Linked DNA regions of Homo sapiens. The protein of the gene in region 4 purifies or fractionates together with the protein of the main gene of each other region. This does not show direct contact. Each region holds a gene or a part of one and is shown on either strand. Other genes may lie near its edges. The genes, in order: SLC35F2, TXNDC15, METAP1, ITIH3 and NADK2.

The links.
Region 1: the proteins of ITIH3 (region 4) and SLC35F2 fractionate together in Homo sapiens (co-fractionation; one large-scale study listed by BioGRID). This does not show direct contact.
Region 2: the proteins of ITIH3 (region 4) and TXNDC15 purify together in Homo sapiens (affinity purification with mass spectrometry; one large-scale study listed by BioGRID and IntAct). This does not show direct contact.
Region 3: the proteins of ITIH3 (region 4) and METAP1 purify together in Homo sapiens (affinity purification with mass spectrometry; one large-scale study listed by BioGRID and IntAct). This does not show direct contact.
Region 5: the proteins of ITIH3 (region 4) and NADK2 fractionate together in Homo sapiens (co-fractionation; one large-scale study listed by BioGRID). This does not show direct contact.

What each region holds. Positions count from the first base shown.
Region 1 is NC_000011.10:107,854,681-107,861,463, reverse strand, and holds the start of SLC35F2 (solute carrier family 35 member F2), read left to right. Parts: upstream 1-2,676; 5' UTR 2,677-2,696; coding exon 2,697-2,806; intron 2,807-2,884; exon of another isoform or gene 2,885-2,963; intron 2,964-6,783.
Region 2 is NC_000005.10:134,893,483-134,899,729, reverse strand, and holds part of TXNDC15 (thioredoxin domain-containing protein 15 isoform 1 precursor), read right to left. Parts: intron 6,239-6,247; coding exon 6,075-6,238; intron 3,437-6,074; coding exon 3,306-3,436; intron 242-3,305; coding exon 45-241; 3' UTR 1-44. UniProt on the Homo sapiens protein: Acts as a positive regulator of ciliary hedgehog signaling. Involved in ciliogenesis.
Region 3 is NC_000004.12:99,057,346-99,063,592, reverse strand, and holds the end of METAP1 (methionine aminopeptidase 1), read right to left. Parts: intron 5,841-6,247; coding exon 5,775-5,840; intron 2,440-5,774; coding exon 2,276-2,439; 3' UTR 784-2,275; downstream 1-783. UniProt on the Homo sapiens protein: Cotranslationally removes the N-terminal methionine from nascent proteins. The N-terminal methionine is often cleaved when the second residue in the primary sequence is small and uncharged (Met-Ala-, Cys, Gly, Pro, Ser, Thr, or Val).
Region 4 is NC_000003.12:52,803,225-52,808,222, reverse strand, and holds part of ITIH3 (inter-alpha-trypsin inhibitor heavy chain H3 isoform 4 preproprotein), read right to left. Parts: intron 4,369-4,998; coding exon 4,214-4,368; intron 3,498-4,213; coding exon 3,489-3,497; intron 2,962-3,488; coding exon of another isoform or gene 2,851-2,961; intron 2,416-2,850; coding exon 2,383-2,415; intron 2,121-2,382; coding exon 2,085-2,120; intron 1,931-2,084; coding exon 1,817-1,930; intron 1,323-1,816; coding exon 1,118-1,322; intron 638-1,117; exon of another isoform or gene 501-637; coding exon of another isoform or gene 477-500; coding exon 307-476; exon of another isoform or gene 274-306; intron 114-273; coding exon 2-113; intron 1-1. UniProt on the Homo sapiens protein: May act as a carrier of hyaluronan in serum or as a binding protein between hyaluronan and other matrix protein, including those on cell surfaces in tissues to regulate the localization, synthesis and degradation of hyaluronan which are essential to cells undergoing biological processes.
Region 5 is NC_000005.10:36,190,474-36,195,639, forward strand, and holds the end of NADK2 (NAD kinase 2, mitochondrial), read right to left. Parts: intron 4,810-5,166; coding exon 4,671-4,809; 3' UTR 2,227-4,670; coding exon of another isoform or gene 2,148-2,226; 3' UTR 2,116-2,147; downstream 1-2,115. UniProt on the Homo sapiens protein: Mitochondrial NAD(+) kinase that phosphorylates NAD(+) to yield NADP(+). Can use both ATP or inorganic polyphosphate as the phosphoryl donor.

The DNA.
Region 1 (6,783 bases), on a different chromosome or scaffold from region 4:
AATCCTCCTGCCTCAGCCTCCTGAAGTGTTGGGATTACAGGTGTGAGCTACTGTGCCTGGCCCCCCACCCTCTTTTAAAGTTACTGGTGTTGACGTGTATCTTCTATTTTTCTTCATACTCACATAATCAAACATAGTAGTCCTCCCTTATGTTTCAAGACCCCCGGTGGGTGTCTGAAACTGCAGAGAGTATTTAGCCCTATACAGTATATACTTTTTTCCTACACATACCTATAATAAAATTTAATTTATAAAATTGGCACAGTAAGAAATTAACAACTCATAATAAAATAGAACAATTATAACAATATACTGTAATAAAAGTTATGTGAATGTGGTCTCTCTCTCAAAATATCTTACTATACTCTAGTCACCTATTTTCAGAGGGTAATTGGCTGTGGTAACTAAAACCGTGGAAATCAAAACCTCAGGTAAGGAGGTGACTACTGTATATATTGCAAATAAAAAATCAAATTTGGTTAAGGAGAGACTTTATTTGTAGGGATTATTGCAAATGGGGATGGGTGGGGACTGTGGGGAAGGGTTCCTGCAGTAGGAGGGGGCCTATTCCCTACTGGTGGGAAGTGGAATGAAAAGGTGGCTCTCCACTGGATAATAGATTAGAGAATGTTTCACCCTGAGGCCAACTTCTCAGGAGGGGCTATTAAGGAGGGGTTACCTGCGGCTCAGGGTCAGGGTGGGTGAAAGTTCAGAGGTATGAGGGAGGAAGAGAAATTCAACCAAAATCTTTGATTAAAAAAAAAAAGGTGGGAGGCTTCTTTTCTTTTCTCTTTCTTTCTTTCTCTCTTTCTCTCTTTCTTTCTTTTTTTTTTGAGACAGTCTTACTCTGTTGCCCAGGCTGAAGTGCAGTGGCACGATTTTGGCTCACTGCAACCTCTGCCTCCCGGGTTCAAGTGGTTCTCCTGCCTTAGCCTCCCAAGTAGCTGGGATTACAGGCACACACCAAAACGCCGGGCTAATTTTTGTAGTTTTAGTAGAGACGGGATTTCGCCATGTTGGTCAGGCTGGTCTCGAACTCCTGACCTCAGGAGTAATCCGCCCGCTTCGGTCTCCCAAAGCACTGGGATTACAGGCGTCAGCCACCGCGCCCGGCCTAGGAAGGTTTCTTAATTGTCATTACTTTCCAGGAGCACAGGGCTCAGGTAGAATTCAACGTTGTCAATATGCAGGGTTAAATGAGTTGTTTACTTTACAAAAGTGACATCTTAAATGTGCTTCTAATGTCCTCTTGTTTCATAATATGCTTGTATTATAATACTTAATTAGTCTCTACGGATGACCACGTTCTTAGTTTCAAAGGTTTTTTTGAGGTTCCTGCAGCTGCTAAACTTGGGGTTCCTGAAGTAATATTTCATTTTCGAAAGCTGTTTTTTTTCTTAGACTCCTCTTACAGAATTGCCAGCTCGTCTGCACAGCCTGTCTATTTGAACCTACGTTTATTTTGACCCACCCCAACCCCCAAAGCAGGTGGCCAGGAAAAAATAAAAGGTCCCAACACCTTTTCTTTTGTTTTCTGGATCTCCTCCTTTCCGGAAGCAGGGGGTCAGTGACAGGAACTTTTCGACCCCAGCTTAGTGTCTCTTAATCCCTCTTTAGCCCGTGGAAGCCTCGGAAGGCGTGGCCAGGGCAGGGCATCCAAGCCGAGCGCCGGGGGTTGGCACCGTCTCTCTCCCTGGCACGGCGGAGACAACTGAATACTGAAAGACAAAACCAACACACCGCGAGGAATGAGCCACGCCTCCATCCACGCCACAAAGGCACGTTTCCAAGATCTTTTTAGGATCTTACCCATGTTTTGCAGGGAAAAGCGACACAGACCTGAAGCGCCTTCAGGTTTTTTTTTTTTTTTTTTTTTTTTTTAAGACGACGTCTCCCTCTGTTGCCCAGGCTGGAGTGCAAAGGCGCGATCTTGGCTCACAACCGCCGCCTCCTGGGTTCAAGCGATTCTCCTGCCTCAGCCTCTCGAGTAGCTGGGACTACAGGCACCCGTCACCACGCCCGGCTAATTTTTGTATTTTTAGTAGAGACGGGGTTTCACCATATTTCCCAGTCTGGTCTCGAACTCCTGACCTCAGGTGATCCACCCGTCTCGGCCTCCCAAAGCGTTGGGATTACAGGTGTGAGCCAACGCGCCCTGCCAGCCTTCAGTTATTTTAATGAAGCGATTTTGTACAAATCAGCCAGAGGGAGGGAGAGTGGGAGGGAAGAGGAGGGGTCAGCCAGTCCTTCCAGTTAGGAGAGTCCCGGCTCACTCACTGCTTCTAACTCACTGCTCACTCACCGCTTCTTAGCTTAGGAATCACCTACAATAACCTCGTGTCACTGTATCTTGTGATTTCAAACAAGGAACCCTAAAAACCTGAAGGCACACTGGGTGCCGCTCAACAATAAGGCTCGGCTGCCAAGACGAAAAAAAAATTGCCCTTTCTCCTCCTGCCACCCTGGAGGTGCCAGGTTGTAATCTGCAAATGTATTGTCTGGCCCTTAGGGCTTGACAGTTAATGATTGGTCGCTGAAGGAGCCGAGCGGAGGAGCGAGAGGGACGCGAGCAAGCGAGCGAGGGAGGGAGCGCAGGGCCAGAGCGGAGCCCCAGCCGGCCGCACAGGCACCGCCTCCCGTCTTCCGGGACCCGGCACTTCGGGGGTTTTGGGCGCCGGAGACGCGCAAGGGCGCCGATGGAGGCAGACTCGCCAGCGGGCCCCGGCGCCCCAGAGCCCCTCGCGGAGGGAGCGGCGGCCGAGTTCTCCAGCCTGCTGCGCAGGATAAAAGGCAAACTCTTCACCTGGTGAGTGGAAGGGGCGTGCTGCAGCTCCGCTGGGGCGTGGGGGCGGCTGCGGGCCCTGCGCGCACGTGGACAAGGAGCACACTCTCTGAGGCCCCCAGCAGGGAGGCAGAGGTGGCGGCCGCACGGACTTCGGTTCGGGGCTCAACACGCACACCAGGTATGGTGCGCTTCACCTGGCGTCGGGAAGCACTTGGTGCGTCTCCCTCGGCTCCCGTTTCGAAATCGTGGCGATGTATTTTGGAGGATTTGGGGGGAAACCCACCCTGTGGCACTATTAGGTCGGTCCTCTGGGGCGTTCCGCGGTGGAGGGACGAGGTCCCCGGGGATGCTGTGAAGGAGGAGTGCCCACCTCGGGCTGGGCAGGTGGGTGAGCGCCACTTCCTGGCGCCGGCGCCCTCATTCCATCTGCTGCCGAGCCAGCCAGACTGGGCGCGGTGATTCAAGAGTTGACCGAAGTGAGAAATCCTGGTTAAGTTTTGTGCTGCTGCCGGGTGGGAGACCAGAGCCGGCTCTCTCTTCCTGGGCCTGAGCGAGGTGATATAGCCACCCCCAGGGCTGGGGTCCAGGGAAGCCTGTTTGTGGTATCACTATGCTCTGTGCGAAGTAGGGACAAATGTTTTTAAGGAGTGGGCAGCGACTCTAGAAAGCGTTTCTGTGGTTGCTGGAGGACTTGCACTCTGGAAATGAGAGAACCCAGGACCTAAATAGTGAAAGACATTTATTGGGCACTCGCTCTGTGTCAGGTACTGTGCATAACAATTTATATGGATAATATCAGCTAATCCTCACCACTTTAGGAGATGGTACTATTGTTATATCCACTTTGCCGCTGGAGAAACAAAGAAGGCTAAGCAATTTGCCCAAGGCCACAAGATGATCTTTAAGGGGTGATGCGTTCAAGCCGTAGTCTAAACAGCGTTGGCCACTGACAACTCATGAAACAGATATTTGATTTTTTTTTCATATTAACAAAGCGAATTTCCCTTTAACGATTGTGAAAGATAGTCCTGAAAAGCCATACCATTTTAAAAACGAGATCGATAAAGGTGTAAGCATTTTTTATCATATAAATAGTTTGAAATTGATGCATGTGTTTAAAGGGGAAAGTTGGCCGAAAACCACCTTGTAGCATCCAGTTGTGTATGTCCTGATACATTTGTTAAAAGTTCTCAGCTGGGAGGCAATTCAGTGTAATGGCTAAGGGCACTCACATTCTGGACTCAAATCCTGGCTGGGTGACCTTGGACAAGTCAGTTCTCTGTGCTCCAGTTCCCTCCCTTCCCTCCCTCTCTCCCTCTCTCCTTCCTTCCTTCCCTCTCTCTCCTTCCTTCCTTCCTTCCCTCTCTCCTTCCTTCGTTCCCTCTCTCCTTCCTTCCGTCCTTCCTTCCACAAGTCAGTTATCTGTACTCCAGTTCCCTCCCTCCCTCCCTCCCTCCTTCTTTGTTCCTTCCTTCCGTCCGTGTCCGTCCGTCTTGGACAAGTCACTTAACTTCTCTGTGCTCCAGTCTCCCTCCCTCCCTTCCTTCCTCCCTTCCTTCCTCCCTTCCTTCTGCTGGGTGACCTTGGACAAATCAGTTCTCTGTGCTCCAGTTCCCTCCCTCCGCCCCTCCCTTCCTTCCTGCCTTCCTTCCTTCCTGGACAAGTCACTTCTCTGTGCTTCAGTCTCCCTCCCTCCCTTCCTTCTTGGACAAGTCACTTAACTTCTCTGTGCTCCAGTCTCCTTCCCTCTTTTCCCTCCCTCCCTCCCTCCCTTCCTTCCTTCCCTCCCTCCCTTCCTTCCTTCCTGCCTTCCTTCCTTCCTTCCTGGACAAGTCACTTCTCTGTGCTCCGGTCTCCCTCTCTCCCTCCCTCCCTCCCTTCTTGGACAAGTCACTTAACTTCTCTGTGCTCCAGTCTCCCTCCCTCTTTTCTCTCCCTCCCTCCCTCCCTCCTGACGGAGTCTCATTCTGTCACCTTCCTTCCTGACAGAGTCTCATTCTGTCACCCAGGCCTGAGTGCAGAGGCTCTATCTCAGCTAACTGCAACCTCAACCTTTCGGGTTCAAGCGATTATCCTGCCTCAGCCTCCGAAGTAGCTGGGATTACAGATGTATACCACCACGCCAGGCTAATTTTTTCATGCTTTTAGTAGAGATGGGGTTTCCCCATGTTGACCAGGCTGGTCTTGAACTCCTGACCTCAAGTGATGCACCCACCTCCGCCTCCCAAAGTAGTGGGATTACAGGCGTGAGCCACCGCGCCCAGCCTGTGCTCCAGTTTTCTTATTTGTAAAATGGAGATAATAACAGTACCTACCTTGTAGTGCTGTTACAAGGTTACTATGCAGGAAAGGGCAGACAGAGCCTGGCTCCTTTCAGTGCTCTATATGGGTTAGTTGTCACCATTAGCTCTCTATTCTTGGGTGATGGGAACATTTGGTGATTGCTTCAGGAGATGCCAGTGGCCTTGAGGCTGGGGCAGATGATATGGCAAGATGTATGTTTAACAAGATGTGATAAGAATTAACAATGATTTTCTTTTCTTTTCTTCTTCTTCTTTTTTTTTTTTTTTTTTGAGACAGAGTTTTGCTCTTGTTGCCCAGGCTGGAGTGCAGCGGCACGATCATGGCTCACTGCAACCTCTGCCTCCCGGGTTCAAGTGATTCTCCTGCCTCAGCCTCCTGAGTAGCTAGGATTACAGGCGCCTGCCACCATGCCCGGCTAATTTTTAATACAGACAGGATTTCACCATGTTGGCCAGGCTGGTCTTGAGCTCCTGACCTCAGGTGATCCATCTACCTCAGCCTCCAAAAGTGCTGGGATTATAAGCGTAAGCCACCGTGCCTGGCCTGATTTTTTTTTTTCTCTCCTAATGTTCTGATACTTTTGGAATCCGGGTATGTTTTATAATCAGTCTAGTAGCCTCCTAAATATGAGATTTCTTTTGTCTATGAATGTCCTTTTTATGTATCTCTTTGAGGGCTTTTTCCTTTCTTGTGGAATAGCAGTTATGGGCATTTTTTTTTTTTAGACAGAGTTTCACTGTTGTTGCCCAGGCTGGAGTTCAATGGCGCGATCTCGGCTCACCGCAACCTCCGCCTCCCGGGTTCAAGCTCTTCTTCTACCTCAGCCTGCCAAGTAGCTGGGATTACAGGCATGCACCACCACACCTGGCTAATTTTGTATTTTTTGTAGAGATGGGGCTTCTCCATGTTGGTCAGGCTGTTCTCGAACTCCCAACCTCAGGTGATCCGCCCGCCTCGGCCTCCCAAAGTGCTGGGATTACAGGTGTGAGCCACACGCCTGGCCATGGACGAAGTTCTTTAACAGCAAAAATGGTGTCTTTTTCTTTTTTATATCTACCACAACCCTTAGCACATGAATGAATGAATGAGTGAATGACTGAGGGATGACAAAGGTTCACAAGTCTTCCTTTCCATTCTGCCTCCCTCCCTGAACTCTTCCCTTTATTGGTCTTTATTCCAAGGGTCTTGGGCTGAGCTTCTTGTTTGGTTGGCTGGGCTCTTTTGTTAATTAAAGTTTCCATTCCTACCTCTGGCAGCCATCCAAGCACTTGGATTTTGGATTGCAGTTTCTCTTTATCAGACCCAGCAATCAGAAAAGAGTGGTTTACCAGATATCCAGTACTCCTAATACTCAATATTTTAAGCTTTGTTGTCAAAACTCATGTCCCAAGTTTGAGTAGCTTTGTGAATCCCCACCTGTGGCCAGGGAACCAAGGGTGGGAGAGTGTAGAAAGAGGTTGGTGAATGGATATGATGTGTTATCACCATATGGGCAAGATACAGAGAGAGATTTATAACCACATAGCTCATTTCTATTCCTTTTACCAAAAAGGGGCAAGAAGAGGCTTTTTGGGCAACTGGGTACTAAATACAGGGAGAAGATTGGGGCATAGAGCTTGTTATGTTTTCATTATGAGGAGGATATGTTCTAAGTGACCCCAGCTCTTAATATACCTGCCCCCATAGGGTACAGA
Region 2 (6,247 bases), on a different chromosome or scaffold from region 4:
ACGAAGGATTGAAGTTCCTCTTTCCAACTTCTTTCAGACCATCACTACTCCACATGTTCCTGCTCTTGTCCTGGAATTAGCCACCGAATACTCTCAGTTCGAATGGTAGCATACATAATAAAACTAATTAAAAAGAATAAGGAAAATACAAGCAACCAGTCCACACTTTTTATCAAAGTGCTGGGAAGAGGGCCTATTTGGTCGGCTTGAGTTACCACCACATTCTTCTTGGCTTCTATACCTGAAAGAAAAATCACTGGTTTCAAATCAGGCAGAAAAAGCACCCACCACAGATTTTTCTCAAGTATTATGTATGGTATGCAAAATGACATGCAGTCCTAAAATAAGCATTGCCACTAGTATATATATAAATATATGGGATGGATTTCACTTGCCTATCAGTGTAATTTGTAAGTTGCCTTTCTCCCCACTGCATCAAAGGATCAGGAACCCATTCAGCTGTTCACAACTAAAACACTAGAATTTCTGTGAACTCATCAGAAGTTTCTTAGTCAATGTGTTTATAAGAGTTGTATTTTGGTGTCTTTTGAGACCAAAGTTCAGTAAGTAACTAGTAAAACTCCTCTCAGGTGTCTACAGAATGTTTTCACAGGTTAAGTAATGCTAAATTCGAAATGCTTTTTTTTTTTTCTGTGATGAAGTCCTGCTCTGTCTCCCAGGCTGGAGTGCAGTGGTGCGATCTCAGCTCACTGCAACCTCCGCCTCCTGGGTTCGAGCGATTCTCTTGCCTCACCCTCCCAAGTAGCTGGGATTACAGACACACACCGCCATGCCTGGCTAATTTTTTTGTATTTTTAGTAGAGACGAGGTTTCACCATGTTGGCCAGGCTGGTCTCGAACTCCAGACCTCAGTTGATCTGCCCACCTCAGCCTCCCAAAGTGTTGGGATCACAGGTGTGAGCCACCGCACCCAGCCCCAAAATGCTTTTAATAATTTACTGAAAGAACTGTTATAACAACAAGCCACCAACGGAAACAGGGATTACCAAAGATGCTCTGACTCCCAGATTTGTGTTCTAGGTTTTCTTAGAGCACTGAATAAAATGGCTCCCTCTCCACACATCAATCGAAATGACAATCAGGGATCCATGACAAGACTTGGACTAGCTAACCACCTTGTAATATCCTACTTTTACTCCTATCAGCCAACTCAGCTCTTTTTTCTTTAGTGTTAGCTAAAATGATTATATGCAATTTAATATATATGCAATGTGTGTTATAATTTTTATTTATTTCCAGTGAGCATACTTTGGGAAGAGTGGGATGCTCACAATTGAGACAGTGAGGCTTTAGAGGAATGAACTTTTCCAATGGAGGTAATTTTTTCAATTTACAATGCTTTACAATGTTTTACAAACAATAAAAAATAAGGCCATATGTTTTGGCAAATATTAAGGAACTAAGATAGCATCTACAAATGGATTAATAAATGGAACAGTAGCAGCAAAGAAAAAGAACAAAACATAACCATACATGACAATGCAGGTGCATCTCACAAGCATACTGTTGGATGAAAAAAACAGACACAAAATAAAACATCCTGCATGTCTCCATTAATATGAAGTCCAAAACAAGTAACACAGTCTATGATATTAGGAGTCAAGACTGTGGTTATCTTTATCTTTGGGGAAGGCAGGAGCAGTGGTGCTGAAGGGAGGCTGGTAATGTTCTGTTTCTCTTTTTTTTTTTCTTTTTTTTTTGAGACGGAGTCTCACTCTGTCAACCAGGCTGGAATGCAGTACTGTGATCTCAGCTCACTGCAGCCTCTGCCTCCTGGGCTCAAGCAATTTTCATGCCTCAGCCTCCCGAGTAGCTGCGACTACAAGCACCCACCACCATCCCCAGCTAGTTTTTGTATTTTTAGTAGAGACAGGGTTTCGCCATGTTGGCCAGGCTGGTCTCGAACTCCTGGCCTCAAGAGATCCACCCGCACAGGCTTCCCAAACTCCTGGGTTTACAGGCATAAGCCAGTGCTCTGTTTCTTGATCAGAGTGGTTACCCAGGGTGTTCACTTTGTGAAAATTCATCACCCTGTACACTCATGACTTATGCATATCTTTGTGTAAATATTAAGTGAAAAATGTGCGTTAAAAGTTATAAGTAAAGTGTATGGTATGTGAATTATATTTCAGTAACACTTGTTTTAAAGTATCTATAATAGGCCAGGCACGGTGGCTCACACCTGTAATCTGAGCACTCTGGGAGGCCAAGGCAGGCAGATCACTTGAGGTTAGGAGTGCAAGACCAGCCTGGCCAACAGGGCGAAACCCTGTCTCTACTAAAAAATACAAAAATTAGCCAGGTGTGGTGGTGCGCACCTATAATCCCAGCTACTAGAAAGGCTGAGGCAGGAGAATCGTTTTAACCCAGGAGGCAGAGGTTGCAGTGAACTGAGATTATGCCATTGCACTCCAGTCTGGGTGACAGAGCGAGACTCCGTCTCAGTCAATCAAACAATAAAGTATCTATAATAGACCGGGCACAGTGGCTCACACCTGTAAAATCCCAGCACTTTGGGAGGCCGAGGCGGGTGGATCACTTGAGGCCAGGAGATCGAGACCAGCCTGGCCAATAAGGCGAAACCCTGTCTCTACTAAAAATACAAAAATTAGCTGGGCACACGCCTGTAATCCCAACTACTCTGGAGGCTGAGGCACGCAAATCACTTGAACCTAGGAGGCGGAGGCTGAAGTGAACTGAGATCATGCCACTGCACTCCAGCCTGGGCAACAGAGTGAGACTCTGCCTCAAAAAAAAGGAAAAAAAGGCTGGGTGCGGTGGCTCACGCCTGTAATCCCAGCACTTTGGGAGGCCGAGGTGGGTGGATCACGAGGTCAGGAGATCGAGACCATCCTGGCTAACACGGTGAAACCCCGTCTCTATTAAAAATACAAAAAATTAGCCGGGTATGGTGGCGGGCGCCTGTAGTCCCAGCTACTCGGGAGGCTGAGGCAGGAGAATGGCGTGAACCCGGGAGGTGGAGGTTGCAGTGAGCCAAGATCGCACCACTGCACCCCAGCCTGGGCGACAGAGCAAGACTCAAAAAAAAAAAAAAAAGGGAAAAAAAAAGTATCTATAATAATTAAAATTACCTATTCATGTTAAACTTCATACTGATTGGGAAGTATTTAACAGGATCATAACAGTTCATTAGAAGAGAAGTTTTACAACTCAAAGTCAGTCTTGAATCCTTCACTTAAGGATTATAGCAGATCAGAACCCACAGAAGGCACAGACCCCCAGCAATAGAATATCTTCTTCCTCAGCACATTACTTCCACATACCTGTCTGATTAAAAATGAAGATTTTCAGTGTTTCCAGTGTTCGATCTGTATGATTAAATCTGGCCATTGGTTTAGCTCCTTGAAATAATAAAATATTAGGAACAGCTACGGTGCCAAACCTGGTAGAAAGGCTACAAGAGAAAGAAGTCAAAAAACCTGAATTTATTATTAATAGAGGGCTTTCTCATACAATTACCATCTCAGAATAGACAGAAATAAATGAGGAAGTTGCGTGTGACCTACGGAGATTTCTGATACTTGAAACTTTTGGCTTTTTCATTTGTTTCTGACCTCTTTGCTTATGGGTCATGGCTGGGGGGCACTCCTTTTCTGCAATCTGAGTTGCTTTCAATTATAATATGGATCTACCAATGGCACAATTATTCCACTAGTTAAGTTCCTGTCTAAACAAACCAGACCAGAAAACTCTAATTCATGGACAAAGCACACTGTGTCAACTTATTTGACAGAAAAAATTTCCAACTCTTCAGAATGCCCATCCCTGTCCCTCAAAAAAGATCAACTTACAGTAGGCAATTGGTTTGGTAAGCTGGCACAAGGGAGTATATGATCTAACAAACACACCAGGATGTTCACAATTAGGGCAGGATGACTTGTTTAGAAGGAATATAACTGTGCGGGCTTATTTCACCTTTACATAATACAGACTAGTGGTGATAAGCTCCCAAGTCAAAACACTCTGGGTTGAAGCCTCAGTTCTGCCACTGAACCAATGTGAACTCTGGGCAGATTATTTAACCTTGCTAAGCCTCAATTTTCCGCATTAGTAAAATAGTAATAGTGTATAACCAGGATTTTTTTCTTTTGTACACATGCTGTAACTTAAATATTAACATAAGAAGCAAACATGTCCCAGCCCATATAATAACAGCAAGAGCCTTAGTCTCCATAATTAAGATACAACATGGAGCTGAAGGAAGGAAAGAAGAAAGCAGGTTAGGGAGGGAGTTGCGGGAGAGGCAGGAGGGACAGTGTGAGACCCAGAACCAAAGAGCACTGAGTATGCCTGGGGGCAGTGGAGGCCCCACCAAAGCTGGACACTGACGTGATCTGTCCTTCCAATCAGTCTGCTCCCTTGGGCCCAGTCACTTAGATATAACCCAGAAGCCTATATGAAAATTACTAATTTGTTGAGCCATTTCTTTCTTCATAAAAGTTTCAGGTAAACATTGGCAGTTATATTCCCACAATGAAAATCAGTGGAATACAATTTTTTTTTTTTTGAGACAGGGTCTCACTCTGTAGCCCAGGCTGGAGTGCAGTGACAGGATCACGGCTCACTGTGACCTTGACCTCCCCTGGTTCAGGCAATCTTCCCACCTCAGCCTCCCAAGTAGCTGGGGTACCACAGGTATGTGCCACCATCCTCAGTCAATTTTTTGTATTTTTTTTTATAGAGATGGAGTTCTGCCATGTTGTCCAGGCTGGTCTCAAACTCTTGGGCTCAAGCAATCCTTCTACCTTGGCCTCTCAAAGTGATGGGATTACAGGTGTGAGCCACTGCACCTGGCCTCAAGTACAGAGTAATGGAAGTTTACTCAACTTCATTTTACCACCAATTGACCATTTTTCAGATGTTCTAGATTTATTTACACACAACCTCCTTGTTGAGGCTGACCTACTAAGGAGCATCTGATTTGGAAGAGAAGAACAGTTTATAACTCAGGCACAATCGCAGCACTTAGGAGAAACATATACCATCTCAACAAAGTTCTCTGTAACTTACTTTACTAAACATTTAAAAAAGACAAAAAGTGGCTCACACCTGTAATCCCAGCACTTTGGGAGGCCGAGGCTGGTAGATCACAAGGTCAGGAGTTCGAGACCAGCCTGGCCAACAAACGGTGAAACCCCGTTTAAAAATACAAAATTAGCCGGCATGGTGGCAGGTGCTTGTAATCCCAGCTACTCAGGAGGCTGAGGCAGGAGAATCACTTGAACCTGGGAGGCAGAGGTTGCAGTGAGCCTAGATCACACCATTGCACTCCAGCCTGGGTGACAGAGCAAGATTCCACCTCAAAAAAAAAAAAAAAAGAAAAAAAAAATGACCAGCCTGGCATGGTGGCGCATGCCTGTAGTCCTGCTACTCAGGAGGTTAAGTCAGGACGATCGCTTGAGCCCAGGAGTTCAAGGCCAGCCTGGACAAAAACCCAGTGAATGATACACGAGAAATATAAAACAAAGATAAATGTCATGTTAAAGAGCTAAATTAATTCATGACTTGATCGAGTGCCTACTACAGAACATGACTGCAAGAATAAGTACGCAGGAAAGAAAGAAGGAAAGAGGGAAAGGGAAAAGAAGGAAAGAAAAAGAAAAGGAAGGGAAGAAATCCTGAGTAGACACAAAACAGGGGTGCTGGGAATTGGGCTGCCTGGGATGGGGATTTAACCTGCGCCTTAAAGTCACAAAGGAATATCCTACTGTGATACCAATTGTGCTGATTCAGTCTGGCTATGGCCCTCAAAAGTCTTCTGGCCCCTCCCCTGCCATCAGGTGCTACCACCTGCCACCTTTAAATCCACCACACAGAGAACAGCCCACTTTCTTTAAGGGGCCTCCATAAAGTGACACCACCAGCTCCCTCAGGAGTATGATAATCCTCACTATTCACTCTTGCCTTGCCTTCCATCCCAGGACACAGTTCATGCCCCCCCTCTTCTGCTTCTAACTTAACTAATTAGGACCTCCAAATAACTGCAACCATCAGCCAGGAGGATGGACGTAAACCCCACCAATGGAAGATACCTGCTGTGCTGAGATGCATCCAGTGCCAAAAAGTGAAGAGCTGGAAATGCCCGGGGCAGAGAGTTAAAGTGAGGGGCCAAACTGGCAGAAAAGCGGCACCACGGGGTGTAAAACAGGACTAGAGTACAGTCACTACCGTTTGGGTTCAGAAAATCCATAAGGTCCTGTGGTAA
Region 3 (6,247 bases), on a different chromosome or scaffold from region 4:
AGACATAAAATGAAGTTCATGTTTCCCTTCTTCCAAGTTATAATTCCAAAGGAGTTGGAAGACTGGCAGGGGGAAAAAATTATTCTAAAAGTTAATGTAAAAAAAGAAGTTAATACTTTGATTTTTTTTTTTTTTTTTTTTTTTTTTTTGAGATGAGGTCTCTCTCTCTCACCCAGGCTGGAGTGTAGTGGCACAATCATAGCTCACTGTAACCTTGAACTCCTGGGCTCAAGCGATCCCCCCATCTCAGTCTCAAGAGTAGCTAATGCTACAGGCTCGCACACCATGCTCTGACTTGTTTTGTAAAAAGGTGGCAGAATGATGAAACTAGGTGTTTTGTCACCTAAATCCAATGAACATTTGTAATTAGATATATGCAATTAGACTAGAGTCCATATTGTTTTAAAATCTCCCAAACTAAGAAAAGCATTATCACCAGTGTGGTGTTTTATCTTTTAACCAAAAAACTATCACACCAAGATCTTTCTTCCTTCAGCTTATATTCTAATGACAGACACTGAATAAGCCCACATTGTTAATTCCACAATCAGTACATAAAATGCTCCCCTAATATTCAGCATTCTGTCTTAAAAGCTCTCAAAAATATGGTTGCATCTCAAATGCTGCTGGCACTCTACTGAGTTTATGTACAGCCATTACACCTGAAAAAACATTTCTACTCAAATGGTCATGAATTTATTTTAGATTATCAAACAGCCTCCCCATTCCCACCATTTCCCTCTGAAATCCCAAAGAAATGCAGCAAAGTTAATGACTACATGGTAGGATAATCATTCAAACTTTTTAATCTCCCTTTACACATTATATTAACATTCATATTGCAAGGCATTCCATTCACAAATATTACAGTTTGATAAAAACTTCACACACATACTCCCAAAGTCTATACCAGATTCAGTCAACTTTACTAAATCATTCAAATAATAAAAGTAATGAAAACATTATTATATTTTAAAGCAATAAGGTCTGAGGCACTCTGGGAAAGATGTTCTCTTACAAGTATAATGTGTCAGTGGTATGAAATTATATTACAAGGATGCCCAGTAATCAAGTACACTCTAATGACAATGACTTTGTGATTTGATATGTCTTCACTGGATACACTCCTACTTGGACAACTGCTGAAAGGAACGTAGATATGGGGCAGCTGAGGTCATTTCTAATGAGGTTCCCAACTATGTAAAGGAGAGGTGTGTTTCCACACACGAAGGACAGCTGCATCTCTACTGCAAGGTTACAGTACACAAAATTCCTTTCTCATCACTATCACATTTACTCAACGTTAGATTTTAATAGCCCACTTGACCTCCTGGGTTCACAGCTGGAGACACTTTAGAACTCTTTCCCCATCCTCCACCATAGTGCAAACTTCACGCTTCTCTGAGCACCTCCAAGGTATGCCCTTGAAGTAAAACAGAAAAGGGAAGAAAGGGGGCTTTTTCTTTTCCATTTCTGACCAAACAGAGGTCTGAAATAGCAGTGTATTATGAAATTCTCATTCCCTGCAACAGTCAGCCACCACTTGGAAAATGGCTATTTTTGCCATAAACTAGATTTTTAAAAGCCTGATAACCTTCCAAAGTGAATTTTACTACATTCATTCACTGACACACAGAGTCCACATTGGAGAAAGTCTCATTGGGTGAGTGCTTCCCTATGCACAATTACAAGGGTAAATAATTAGCATGGGGGAGAGGGGAGGCCAAATCCCAACCAGGAATTAAATCACTGCAAACTATGGATCCATTTGTAAGAACATATAAACCTGTCAGAGCAGAAACAACACAAACTCCAGGTCACATAGTGTTTGGTAATTATGTATACAGAACTTAAAATGTATACATATATATTTCCATATATATAATTTAAAAAATCTGGTGCAACACATATTGCTAAGTTTCAAAGATTCTCATTTCCAATGTTCACCTGGAAAGCAGATGGCTCTTGATGGCTGTTTTGCGGCAGTGATAAAAGCAACTACAAGCAAGTTTAAGTAAAAGTGCTCAAAGGGCAAATGAGAAAACAGGTGTGCAGGGGGAGGGGGCTGAAGAGTTGAGCAATGTTTCCTTTATTCTTCTCAGCTTTTTCAGACCCAAGACAAGTTCTTGAGGACACACATCAAATGCTGTAGTCCTTTCTTATCTATAGTCAAAACAAAACAAGTGATTAAAAAAAGGTTCCTCTTCCTTTCTGTACTCTCAATAAAATGCATAGCACAGTAAGAAGGTACTGAGATGTGCCATCTTGGGAGAAATTAAAATTGAGACATGAAGTGAGGCCGTGCACTGTCAAGTCGCCGGGTTAGGATTTCACAGCCAGTGTCTGTGACCAGGAGGGTGTGCTCAAACTGAGCAGACCGCTTTCCGTCTCTTGTCACCGCAGTCCAACCATCTGGCCAGGTTTCATCCTGCCATCCGCCTTCAACAAACAAAAACAATTTCTTAGTTCACTCAGTTTTCTAAATGAACTCTATCAAGAAGAAAGCCAAGGAAAAAATTCACTACTAAGATCCTTATTTACATGCCAATTGTTTTAGCTAATGCCTTTCCAACTTCATTTTGGTCTTCAGTATGTTTGATGTTTAAATTTCATCAGATGTATTACAACCACATTTTTTATATATCCCAAATATCAAATCAAGATGGAATTTCCAAAATAAAGGCGCTGGATTTCATTTTAACAACATATTGATACCAATCACCACAACTTTGAGTAACAACCTTAATTAATTATATGTATCATTATATGTATCAAAGCATCACTATGTACCCTATGAATATGTACAATAATTGTCCATTTTAAAACAGGAAATTTTTTAAAAAGGACATTCTGCAATATGCTACAACACAGATGAACCTTGAGAACATAATGCTAAGTGAAATAAGCCAGTCATAAAAAAGCATATGCTTGGCCAGGCGCGGTGGCACACGCCTGTAATCCCAGCACTTTGGGAGGCCGAGGCGGGCAGATCACAAGGTCAGGAGATTGAGACCATCCTAGCTAACACAGTGAAACCCCATCTCTACTAAAAATACAAAAAATCACCCGGGCATGGTGTTGGGCGCCTGTAGTCCCAGCTACTCGGGAAGCTGAGTCAGAAGAATGGCATGAACCTGGGAGGCAGAGCTTGCAGTGAGCTGAGATCGCGCCACTGCATTCCAGCCTGGGCGACAGACCAAGACTCCGTCTCAAAAAAAAAAAAAAAAAAAAAGCATGTGCTTAATGATTCCACTTCTATGAGGTAGAGTACAGTAGTCAAAATCATGGAGATAGAAAGCAGAACAGTGGGTGCCAAGGTCTGGGAGTAGTGAGCAATAGGAAGGGAATGTTTAATGGGTTGAGTTTCAGTTTTACAAGATGAAAAGACTTTTGGAGATGGATGGTGGTAATGGGTGCACAACGTTATGAATGTATTTAATAATATTGAACTGTACATTTAAAAATGAGATGTGTATTTTACAATTAAAAAATCAGAAAAAAAACTTGAATGAATTTAGCTCTTTCCTAGTATAACTTGGGCATCTGACAAAACTATACTCAGCATATATTGTGAAGGAAATCATGTAAATGTTTACAGTTTTATTACAGCATTCAATTCCTGATATAATTTCAAAATGGTAGGCACACAAACAGATGGTGAGAACAGATTATACAGTGAAATTTTTGTGAACTATACCCCTGGAATCAGAAAGAGGGGCAAAAGAAAGACTGGTGTGAGAGCATAAGAAAAATATGAAGCAGAATGGTCTGGACAGGAGTTGAAACCAGAGAAGGGAAGCAAAGGGACAGTGAATCTGGGAGGCCATGAAAGAAAACTCAGAGAAAGGAGGGAAAGGGGGTGAAGGGGTCATAATGAGGGAAAGCAGAAAGCAAAGGCCCAAGAGAATGTGAAGCAGAGGTGGAATGAGAAAGGCAATTCTAGATACTACTGTAAAAGATGTATTTGCGAGCTTTCTTCTTTCAAAATTAGATGTTAAAAAAAAATCAATACTTTCTTCATTTTGAGTAATCTTTAGGTGAAACATATTACCTCTAGGACTCACTGCCTCAGACAGACAAATCCCAGAACATAAACTCTGTAGTGAAGTAAACTACTTTTGCAATATTAAATCCCAGGCTAAAAAGAAAATACGAGGCGGCCTAAAAAAGTTAACTCATGCCTCATCAAGCAACTAAAGATGAGTACATCGATGTTTTTCAATGTAATGGCCTTTACACAAATGGCCTTTACACAAATTTAAAACATTACTACTGTAATTTTATTGTGATCTGATAAAACAGGATTTTTAGTAATGTCAAGTCAAACTTATTTGGCTATTCTGAGGAAATTCTCCTGCAGATTTGAGACTTTCTAGTCCAGGGATTTAACCTAGCTGAGTTACACTTCAAGTATATCTGCTATAATTTGATGATTAATTACCTGTGCTGGCTGTATAGAAAGTTATTTGCTTACTGAAAACACTACATCATGGCTCACCAACCAGGTGCTAGTTAATGGAAATACGTAGCCAAAATGACAATTTCCTCCCACTATCTTTCTTTTCACTGCTAAATACTTACCATCTTTACAACTGGTTGCACGTGATCAGAACTTTATCCTTATTATAAGAGGATGACAAAAACTTTACTGCACATTTGTGCAGTCTTTTAAAGTATATAACATAACATAAATCATCTCAGTCTAGCAGCCCTGGGTGTTGGCAAGATAGAGATTCTAATTTTCATTTTACAGAAAACGCAATAAGGAACCAGCTTTAGAAGGCAGCCTCTAAAGTGACTTCAGTGATCCCCAGCCTCCTGGCATGCAGGCCCTTGTGTGAGCTCCTGCTCCCCTTGAGTGCGGGCTGGATTCAGTGAATCACTTCTAAGAAAGACAATATAGAAGTCACTCCCAAGACTGGGTTATAAAAAGACTGGAAGGATCAAGAGAGGGAGTATCCTTTAAAACAGGGCTCAGGACACACAAGCTCTACTGCTACTGCCTCACTTTGCATCCCCTAACCAGAAAGCTCCATTACCAGAATCACTCTGAAAATCTCGGTGAGGAGCCCTAATTGTGACTCCCAGTCTCCTATCACTGCTACAAGCCTGTCTGGAAGAGATGACAACAGTGGGGAGGCTGCCAGAGCCAAGTGTGCTTTCCAAGTGTCCTTGGTGTGCTTTCCCCACAATAGCTATATGATGCCACGTGATGACATGAGTACAGACCATGAAGGGTCAGAACAGCTCATGAGCTGAGTCTGACAAATTCTGCCAAGTAACAAGCTAAGTTACAGGCAAGCTACCCACCCTCTTCAAGGACCAGTTTCCTAGTTTCTATAATGGGGTAACACCTACCTTATAAATTGTGAAGAATTAAATCATATAATCATGTCTGCCTCGAACTGGGTGGCTCGTCAATGCTCTGCTCTGTTCCCTCCTCTTCCCTCTCCTACATCAAGCAAGAACGTCCGCACAGACTTGACCTGGGCACCTCATTATTACAATGCACCCTTTGACATGATCTTTATGAAAAGGGACCAGAATTCAAGCATTTCAGCATCTCCTGACAGAAGACTACCACGCAGAACCCATGCCGTTCTTGCCAACCCTCACAATTTTCAGTTCTTCACGATACTGAATCAAGTTTGAGGTGGGACAGGGAGTGAGTAGGAAGCAAAAAGCAAGCAGGTAGAAAAGACCACTGACATGATGAATTACCTAAAATACATATAAATTCAATTGAAAAATATCATGGCATCCTTTTTTCTCACCTTCACAAATCATTGGCTCAATTGTAAATACATGGCCCGACTTCATCACTCCAACTGCTTTATTTTCTGAAATCAAAGAAAAAAATCTCAAAAGGTAGCAAAACCAACAGTGTACTGTTGAACAGCTAACTAGAAAGAGTACATAACTCAAATTCCCATCAGTGATTGTTAAATTAATTACCCTGATTCCCTTTCTTAAAGTTCAACAAACAGGTATTATACTGGCAGCCATCTAATATGGTGCACGTATTGTCCTAGGCACATTTCAATTACGCTTATGTGTTCTCTAGGAAAACAGAGGTATTTGTAGGCTGTATTTCAGAGATGAGTATCACTTCTATAAAAAGAAAAGTGGCAAATAAAGAATAAAAGAAAAGTGCCTTGATTTCTATTACCTCATGATTAGAATTGCAATCACAGAACCAAGAGTTCCACTACTCATCCGGGTAGAGAAGCTCAAAGGAGAATGACAG
Region 4 (4,998 bases):
CCTGGTGACAATCAGCTGATGGTTCTTCACCACCAATGTGGCATCTGGCTTTGTGGGGTCAGAGCCTGGCCGGATGTCAGACACTTTAAAGTCAAAGGGTTGGAAGAATTGCCCTGGGAAGAAAAATATTCATGCTGTCAGCCCCTGGCCATTGCCACGGGTAACGTGGCCACTGGCCTTTCAGGGTTGATGCAAAGGCTGAATGGGGTGTTGTGAGCTGGGTACAGGGTGCCTAGGAAGGCCTTGTGTATGTCTTTCCCATGCTGCTCTCAGGCCTGAACAGCCTGCAGTCTGAACACTTCGTACCCAGCAGCCCATGCGTCTGTGCTGACATCCGGTGACTGTCCACCACGTAGAAGCCTAGAAAGTCACGGTGGACAGGATGTTTCTTCCACACCTGGTGTAGGACGACCACGAAGGTAACCCCATCTCCAAAGGAGACCACCATGTTCTTCCTGTTGATCATCATGGACAGCCTACGAGAGGAAGCCAGAAAGTGGCTGTGGGGCCCAGTGGCCGTGACACTGGGCATCTGACTCAAGGGCGTTTTGGTGGGGCCTCCCCTGTACATGGCACCCGAGGGCCCACAGACTCCAGAAACTATCTCAGGGGCGTTGGAAAGAGGATGCCTCATGCACACTGTCTCCCCTCCCGTGAGTGGATCCTTGAGTGTCTATAAGTGGGAAAGAGAGGGCTGGCCTATGAATCTGGAGGCCTGTGGTCCAGCCTCAGCTAAGCCACTGACTTCCTGAGTGACATTGGGCAGGCTCCACACCTTCTCTGAGCCTCAGTGGGAGGCTCTGGGGGATCTGAAGACAGGAGAGCTAAGAAGACAAGAGCAGCCACAGAAGAGGCAAATGGGGGCCATTATCACCTAATGCCTTCACCCAACCAGCTGAACTGTGCAGCTACCAATTCTGGCTCTGATAGGGCCCCAGGGTTTGGTTGGGGGCCACTATGGTCACCCTCCCCTGTGACAGGAGACTGGATTCTGGGGTCTCTGATCTTTCCTGTGACCCCCATGGATCTCCTGTCCTGGGATTTTTCTAAATCCCTCAAGAGCCTCCTTAGACTCTCACCCTGTAGTCCACCTTGGAGACCTTGTAGGGGAGCTTACCCATCCTGCGTGACTGTGACTGTGTCCAGCCAGCTGAAAGTGCTCGGCACGGCCCTGTTCCACAGGGTGATCTTCTCCGTTGTCACCTCCACCTGGAAGTCCATCTGAGCATTGGCGATGCCCAGTTTTCCAAAGTAAGTCTTTCTGGTCTTGGAGTCAGGGCTGCCTCTCTTGTCGCCAGTGATCTGCCCATTAACTGTGAGGCCTGCCAGAGGGATGGGGCAGGGAGAGAGACCAGCGAGAACTTCTGAGTCCAGATTGCCTTTAGGGGTGTGCCTTCCTCTTCAACCAGACTGGCTGAGGGGCAGCAGAGCGGGGGCCACAAGAGAGACCAGGACTTCAGAGCCCAAGCCTGTTGGTTCCTAGACACTCTAGGTTTGGGTCATGCTGGGACCTTATGGGTCTGCCACTTGCCTGGGCCAGGGAGTGTTGTTCAGAGAAAAGCTATTCCCCAGACACAGGCTGGGTCCTACCCTAGGCCCAGGTGGTCCATTCACGCTAATCATCTCCCAATAGCACTGGCATGTGGGGCTGAGCAAGCCTGTGGCCCTGGGCACTCCCCACCCCCAGGGGTTTCTTTGCATGTGAAGATGATGCCTTACTGGGCAGAGTGAGAACCTGTTCCCTGTGCCTACCTCGGGGGACCCAAGCCCTCCCAGGAAGAGCCCCCTGGCCCCGGCCCTAGCCCACAAGCCTCACCTGTGACTGCATCCTGAATAAGGCGCAGCACTGTGCCTGGGGCTTCATCGATGTTGAAGCAGAGGGCATCGTCTTTCTCCGGAATTTGGATGATGAAGTGGGGATCCCCGTCCACTGGTGACACATTAGAGAAGGAGCTGACTCCCGGGGCCTCTCATCATACCTGGGGCCTCCCCCAGCCTTCTGGCCTCCATGGGCTCGACTCCGAGACAGGCAGGAGCACGTGCCCAGGCCCCTGAGCCTTCCCGAGGAGCAGCCAGGGACTCACCATAGTAGTAGGGGTTTTGAGGAGGCTGGTAGCTGGCTGCAGATACAAAGGGAGAGAGGGCTGAGCTAAGCAAGTGGCCCTGGGAGGCGCCCGACGACCCCCATAGGAGTTCAGCTTATGCCCCTCCCCTCCCCTTCCCGCTCGCTAATGCCATTGCCCTCCCACCCCGCAATCTCCTCAGGGCACATTGTCCATCTGCCCATCCCGGAGAGCTGAGTGAGTAGCCACGGTGGAGGGACATGTGGCAGGGGCAGGCTCTAAGCAGTGGGAGGAGTGGCAGCTGCCAGCATGTACTCACTCAGGTAGGACATGGCGGGGCTCACCGGTGTGGCTGAAAAGCCGAAGGGCAGTGGTGAGCAGGGTCTAGGGGTTCCTTCTCCCCCAGCCCCGTGCCTTCCTCCTGTCTTAGCGCTGCTGGGCCCCAGAGGGGCCCCAACACTGGCAGATAGAGGTGGAGATGTGACTACAAAGATTAGGCTTTGGAAATCGGGCACGTCCAGGGAAGCCCTTTATGGGGCTGGTGGCAATGGGATGTGATTTTAACGTTGGCGCAGGGCTTTTTGATGTGGCTGAAATGCAAGCCATTAAGTCATCTTCTCTCTCTTGAGTAATGCTCACAGCAAACATCTGCCCCACCCCTGGGCTTCCCACCCCCTAGTTGGGGTGAGTGAGGCTCACGGCTGTCTGTTGCTTCTTGATAGTAAACACCCACCCACACGTGCACACAGGCGCACACATATGCGTGCACATGCATATATGTACTCACATGCACCGGTACATTTATCAGGGCTGTTCTGAGGGGAATGTGATGGCCCAGTCCAAATGTGCCAGTCCAAATGGAGGTGGGGCAGGCCAGTAGGGGCTGGGGAGGCCCTGCCTAGTGGCAGGGAGTTTGTGAGGTTCCAGTTTTGTGGTGAGAGAGGCACAGAGGACTGTGATCCCCAGCAATTCCCAGCATGGGCATTGGGGCCAGACTGCCTTGGCCTAAGTACCAGCTTGGCCATCTGCTGAGTCTGTGAGCAAACAGACTGAGCAAATTAACCCCCCGTGCCTCAATTTCCCCATTGTAAAATGGGGATCATAAAAGGGCCCTCTTGGAGGGTTGCTATGGGACTAATGAAGTATAAATGACTGACATGCTAAATTGCTCATTTTTGCAGGTCATAGATACTGTCATACTGATTGTGTCTCCCTGGGCAAGGGAAGCCACCCCCAATTAACTCACAGGGATCCTCAGGCTCAGAGAGGGGCACGTTCATGATTTGGCAATAGGGCTGGGCCTGAGCCCAGGTGTCCCAAGTGTGCCCCCATGGCTGGGGGTCCTATCTTGCTTGGAAAGGCCTCCTCAGTTCTCTCTTGTCTCCCTTCCATAATGCCCAACCCGGTGGCTGGCTAAAGGCTTACCTTCTGCATCTGCAGGTGCAGCAAGGGAGGAAGAAGAGAAATGCATTAGAAGCCATAGGGCACTTGTGAGCAGGGACCAGAGCTGGCTGCTTGGCCGACCAGCCCTAGGCTGTGGGCCTCCCAGCAGCCAGCTCTTCCCCCACTGGGTGTCCCCTGGAACTAGGAGTTCTTGGAAGCCAGAGGCCTGGCCTGGCCAGGCCCAGCTCTTTGCCTCCCATGTCTCCCAATGCCAATCCTCCACCACCACACACAGACCCTGTACCTAGTTGCAGTGGGCATTTGGGACCCCCTGTTGAGTAGGGCAATCTGGGGTCTGGTTGAGGGGGTCCCAGCCTCCAGCTCTCAGGGACTCTTCCCCTAACAATCTCCAGGTGCCTGATAGCCTGCTCCAGGCCTTTCATGTTGGAAGTGCTTCTTCTTGTCTAACTAAGCCCTTCCATGCTGCAGCCTCAGTCCTTTTCCTTGAAATGCCCCATGGGCAGTGTGCCCCCTTTACTCACTTCCCTTTAGAGGTGCAGAGGCTCCTATTCACCCCACACCCCACTGTCCATGCTGACTGCTTCACGCTCCACCCCACTTTCCCCATCCCGTGGCCAGTTTTCCTTCAGATGCCCTACTTCAGCAGGTCTGGGTCTCCCCAGCCTGGCCCACTCCTCCACTGGACACCCAGGTAGGGTGCCCAGCACAGGAGGCCTCCGGGTTCCGGCCTCCATCCCTATCCCCACCTTCCCCAGGCTTGTCGGCAATGGCCCTCTCATCCTCGTTGTCCTCAGGCTTGGTCACCACCATTGAGGTCAGTGGAGTCACAAAGTGATACTTGAGGGACAGGTCCAGGGCCCGGGCCGTGAGGTTCTCCTTCTCCTCGCCATGGGCGTTCTTGCTGTGAGGAGGGGCCAGTCAGGAGGACAGCCTGGAGAGCAGCACCCTGCCCACTTCCCCTGCACTGGAGCAGTGGACACAGCTGGGGATCCCCACTCCACCTTCCCCATTGTGGGGTCCCCCAGGGTACAGCCCAGTTGGGCTCAGAGAAGACTGGCTCACAACTCCCTGGGGCATGTGAACAAGCCCTGTTTCCTTGCTGGACCTTGGTTTCCCCACCTATAAAACGTAAGGACCGGCCGGGCATGGTGGCTCACGCCTGTAATCCCAGCACTTTGGGAGGCCAAGGCGGGTGAATCACCTGAGGTCAGGAGTTCGAGATCAGCCTGGCCAACATGGTGAAACCCCATCTCTACTAAAAATACAAAAATTAGCCAGGCATGGTGGTGCATGCCTGTAATTCCAGCTACTTGGGAGGCTGAGGCAGGAGAATGGCGTGAACCCGGGAGGCGGAGCTTGCAGTGAGCCGAGATCCCGCCACTGCACTCCAGCCTGGGCGACAGAGCGAGACTCCGTCTCAAAAAAAAAAATAATAATAATAAAATAAAATAAATAAATAAATAAATAAATAAATAAATAAATAAATAAAATAAGGGGCTACAACAGCCACTCGCAATGGTGTCCATGTGCA
Region 5 (5,166 bases), on a different chromosome or scaffold from region 4:
ATATATTTGATCAGGTTATACTATGTGTTTTATTGTCATTCAGAAACTATTTGAATGTTCACTGTATGCCCAGAGGCCTTCCAGGAATTCTGTTCCTTTTGGACCCTTCCATTCGAATGGTAGAATGGTGATTCTTGAATATCACCCAATTGTGCTGGTCCTATCACCACTATGCCTTTTTTTAAATGATGAAAAACGTCAAACATATGCAAAAAAAAAAAAAAAAAAAAAAAGAATATGATGGACCCCATCTTCCAGTTTCAACAGTCATTGATTCCTGGCCAATCTCACTGAATCCATGATCTCAACCATTCCCCTCCAATACAGATAATTTTGAAGCAAAACCCAGACCCATAATATCATAACTATTTTGGTATATACCTCTAAAAGTTAGGGATTTTCCTGCGTGAATCCTGAAGCATTGTATATCAAGATGGTGTTGACAATTCCTCAGTTGTCTCGTGTTTTCTTCAATGGGTTTATTTTGCTCAGGATCCAAACATGGTGTACATACTGCATTTGATTTAAATTCTCTAAATCTTAAATTTAGGGTTTCTTCCTTTCTTTCCTTGTAATTTATTTATTGAAGAAACTATGTTATCTGTCCTGTGTTCTACATTCTGGATTTTGCGTCTATCCCTGGAGTAATAGGTTAATCTTTCCCCTATTCCCATAAACTGGTGGTTAGATCTAGCAACAAAAAGCTCTAGACCAGGGGTGATTTTCCCCCACCCAGGAGATACTTGGTAACATCTGAAGACATTTTTGATGGTCACAAGAGAAGTGCTATTGGCATACAGGCAATAGAGGCTAAGGATGCTGCTAACCATCCGAAAACAGGAAAGCCCCCTACAACAAAGAATTGTCTGGACAAAATGTCAATAGTGTCAGTGCTCCAGAGGCTTGTATCATCAAGTTCTTTTTTTTTTTTTTTTTAGCCAGGAGACACTTGATAAGTAATATCCTGTTCTTCTATTCAGATACATACCTGTCTGTTTCATTTTCACTGCTGTCACTTTACCTGCTCTTGGGCTCTTGATTCCTAATAGACCCTATCCACAAGCTCCAGAGACATGAGGGACACTGGCCAAGTGCAAAACTTTATTTCTGGATAAAGCGCTTGTGTCCTATCCTGGTGAACCCAATTACACTTCAACATTTATTGACCATCCACAATGTGCAGGATACAACAGCCCAGGAGAAGATGCAGAGCCTATGAGGAAACAAAGGCAAGTAGTCTAGAGACTGGGCAAACTAGAAAGAAACCTCTTGTCACTGCATACCCTAACCATGGAACAAGCAAGATGACAACCTCCTCTTTCTTTACTATTCCTCCCCACCTAGCCAAATATCCCAGAAAATCAAAGTTTTCTTCACCAAGAGACTAACCCTTCAAGATACAAGTCAAAGCCCTAAAAGCCTATACTAATATTATGGATAACTCAAAACGTAACTGCTTTGAGTTACTATGTTTTAGCAAATCTAAATACTAAAATGCCGGTATTTTTACATTTCTCTAAATACCAGAATATCTAAATTGTAATTTTGAGCATTAAAATCACTATATTTAAGGTATTCAGATTAACACTTAAAATATGCTTTTCTACTTTTAGCTCATGTAGTCAGTGATTTTCTTTAAAAAAAGTCTTAAAGCCCGTAAGACTTAAAAACTCTTCATACCTTAATGTAGAAAACTTAATAAGCCTTCTCACTGACTTATGCCCCAATCCCTTGAGTACTTTTAATGTTAAAGTCAAGAATAAAATGCCTTTGAAAAAATAAAATTGAACTATTCTTTAGTTAGACAACTCATTAGTACATTTACTCTTATCTCCCCCACCATTATATTTAGGTGTTGCATTATCCCTGGGATCTTTTCTGCATAATTGTCTTAGTAGATGCTATTCTTAAGTATAAGGATGCATAAATAATATTGGTACAATGGAATGAATTTAAGTGATTTAAATTCTAAATGTACATTATTTTCACAACTAAGCAAAATATATAACGTATCCTTAAACTTGTATTTGACAACTTTTTCAACTCAAGTGGATATTTTACAATAAAAATGTGTTACCTGGCTCTCTTTCTGCTTATTAAAAAGTGAAATCAATGTAGTAAAACATGTAATATGATTTAATGTACAGGGGCCATGAATGTAAATGCACAAGGAGTATCAAAAATATTAAGTCAAAATTATCTGAAGAGCCTACACTGACCAGGTAAGCACTTCACCCTGATTTAATAACTAATCATTCTATGTCAAATGTTAACAGTGAATGAAGTCAACAGGGCACAGAATAATAATACACAGCAGTGGGGAAACACTTCTGAAACATAACATTTTGTGAAAACTAGTTTTCAAATAATGACCCCTTGAGAGGGAAATAAGAAATGTTAAAAAGAAGAGGTAACAGTGGAGTAATTTTATTCACATAGGGTTGCGATTAAAAGGTTAACTCATTCAAACACATTTTTGCTATGCTAACATTCCTTTGCCTCTTATTCTTACAAATAAACCCCCATCACAGAGCAGAAATGTTAGAAATTATATCACAAATGGAGCACAATAAGTATTTTTAAAACCTTTTAAAATATGGCTTATAATTTTACACAGCAAGTTACCTATTAATATGTTACATATTAACAGATCTATTTGGACAATCAGATTTCCTTGAGATTAAGGATGGAGTTGGCATTTTTCCTTTAAGAAGGCATTTTAAGGCCGGGCATGGTGGCTCATGCCTGTAATCCCAATACTGGGAGGCCGAGGCAGGCAGATCACAAGGTCAGGAGTTCGAGACCAGCCTGACCAACATGGTGAATCCCCATATCTACTAAAAATACAAAAAATTAGCCAGGCATAGTGGTGCCTGCCTGTAATCCCAGCTACTTGGGAGGCTGAGGCAGGAGAATCGCTTGAACCTGGGAGATGGAGGTTGCAGAGCCGAGATCATGCCACTGCAGTCCAGCCTGGGTGACAAAGCAAGACTCCGTTCTCAAAAAAAAAAAAAAAAAAAAAGAAGGTATTTTAAGCCTGTTAGGGGAGGTTCTATAGTATGGAGCTTCTTTATAAAGTGGTATCTTATGTATATCAAAAAAAAAAAGCCAGATCAATCTCTGGGAAAACACTACATTTTAATGTATTTCTATCTGATATGTCATAAATTCTTTGCTATGAATGTCTACGCAGATACTTTAAGAAAAATTGATTCTCTGGATATACATCAAAACCTAGATTAACTTTGTACATTAACATTTATTTTAAAAAATTGATAAGAACAACATGTTAAATATTGGCAAAACTAAGAGCACTCAATTCGACTATCCGTCCAGCTTTCACAGAATTTACTTCTGAGCCCACAAGACTCAAATTGTATAAGGATAGAGTCTGTTTCATTCATCAACATATCCAGCACCTGACATAGTTTTACATGGCACAGAGTGGGTGTTCAATAAATATTTGTCAATGATTGAACAGAAATTTTCAGCACCAAATGAAAGAAACACATGACTTTGAACAACGGCACGAGAATACCAACTGTTTGATTATGCAACGACAGGATCTTTTGGCAAAAATTCTAGGATTACTTATAAGTAGATCAATAATTAGATAATAATTTCCTCCAAAAATAAAGGAATTCTCATGGGGAAAAAAAAAAAGTCCTAACATCTTATCCTAAAAGCTATTCTGTAAATCTTGGAATATAAGCTAGGTGAAAACCACAATACTAAGGAAGGCAATTCCAAAACTACTGTGTTTTACATATTTATTAAAGAATCCATTCTTTCTGATAATACTCCTAACACAGGTGAAGATATTTTTACAATATTTTACCAAACTCCTAATAGAAAATGTCTAATCAGTTCATCCTTTTAGTCCCTGAATCCATGTTTGAGCATTTTAAAGATGGAAGAAACCTGTAAGACTCATATCATTTTAAAAAAATTGACTTAAAACACTTATTGGATAACTAATACATTTGTAACAGCATCATGATTTGTTTTGCTATCTGTATTTCACCCAGAACTGCTGAATTACAGAATGAAACTCAAATGAAAGCATTCATCTATAATTTCAAAAATTATTATTTGAAATTTTTAAATCAATAGTCATAACATCATCGTGTTCCGAAATTAGAAAATTATTAGCACATATACAAACATATTTACCTATGTCAATTAGGTCAATGTCAGGATTTATCAAAATTCTCTGTCTTGAAAATTTTTTCAAAATCTTGGTTTTCAGGTACTATAAAAAATATGCACTAATCAAATGATATGTGTTCAGTTCTGACAATCCCACAATTAGGAGGAAAGGGAAGGAAAACACACTTATACAGTTAAGTTTCAAATCCTAAATATTTAGTCCTTTATTTAAGCCTGCCCCTCTAAATTTAAAAAGGTATCAGCACTCTTGGTTACCAATTGTAAGCAATATAAAAATTTCACTGGTATCAATTCTAATTGGTTCAGTCCATCCATTTTCTTATACAGTGAATGTCTTTTTTTCTATCAGAATCCAACAGAAGAATAATGCAAATCTCACTTCTGAGCCCACGGGCAAGCAGTCTCAACAATAACCAAAAAATGTCACTTTACGACTGGTAGTCTGTTTCTGAAGTAAAAATATTCTCGCCAGTAATCAAAATTTGTCATGAGGAAATCCTTCACTGTTCAAGAAGCACAGTTCGAAGCTCATCTTCTTTATTGATCATCATCGAAGCAATTGCACCATCATTAAACTCAAAAGAAGTTCCTCCATCCACAACCATACAGGCATCCCAACAACGAGAACGAACACAAACCCTAGGCAGAAGGAAATATCTCATTAAATAGTAATAGTTTTCTTAATAGGTTATTTTAATCCTGAATTTTAACCTAGCAGATCATTTGGCCTCCATTTTAAAAATCAAGTTGTTCTCTGGTATGAGAAAATTAGTCACTATGTAAATATATGGGTATATTATGAAGGTCTCAAAACGTTCAGGATGGCACCATTCGCTCAAGCATTTAGCAGTAAAGAAGTGCAGACCTGACTGAACTCACAGGCTGTTTTCATATGATTAAATGCTGAATTACTAACATTACAAATATTAAGTATTGAATAAGAGTGTTAACTATTTTCATGTAAAATTTGTACTTAAAATTTTTACTTAAGTATAA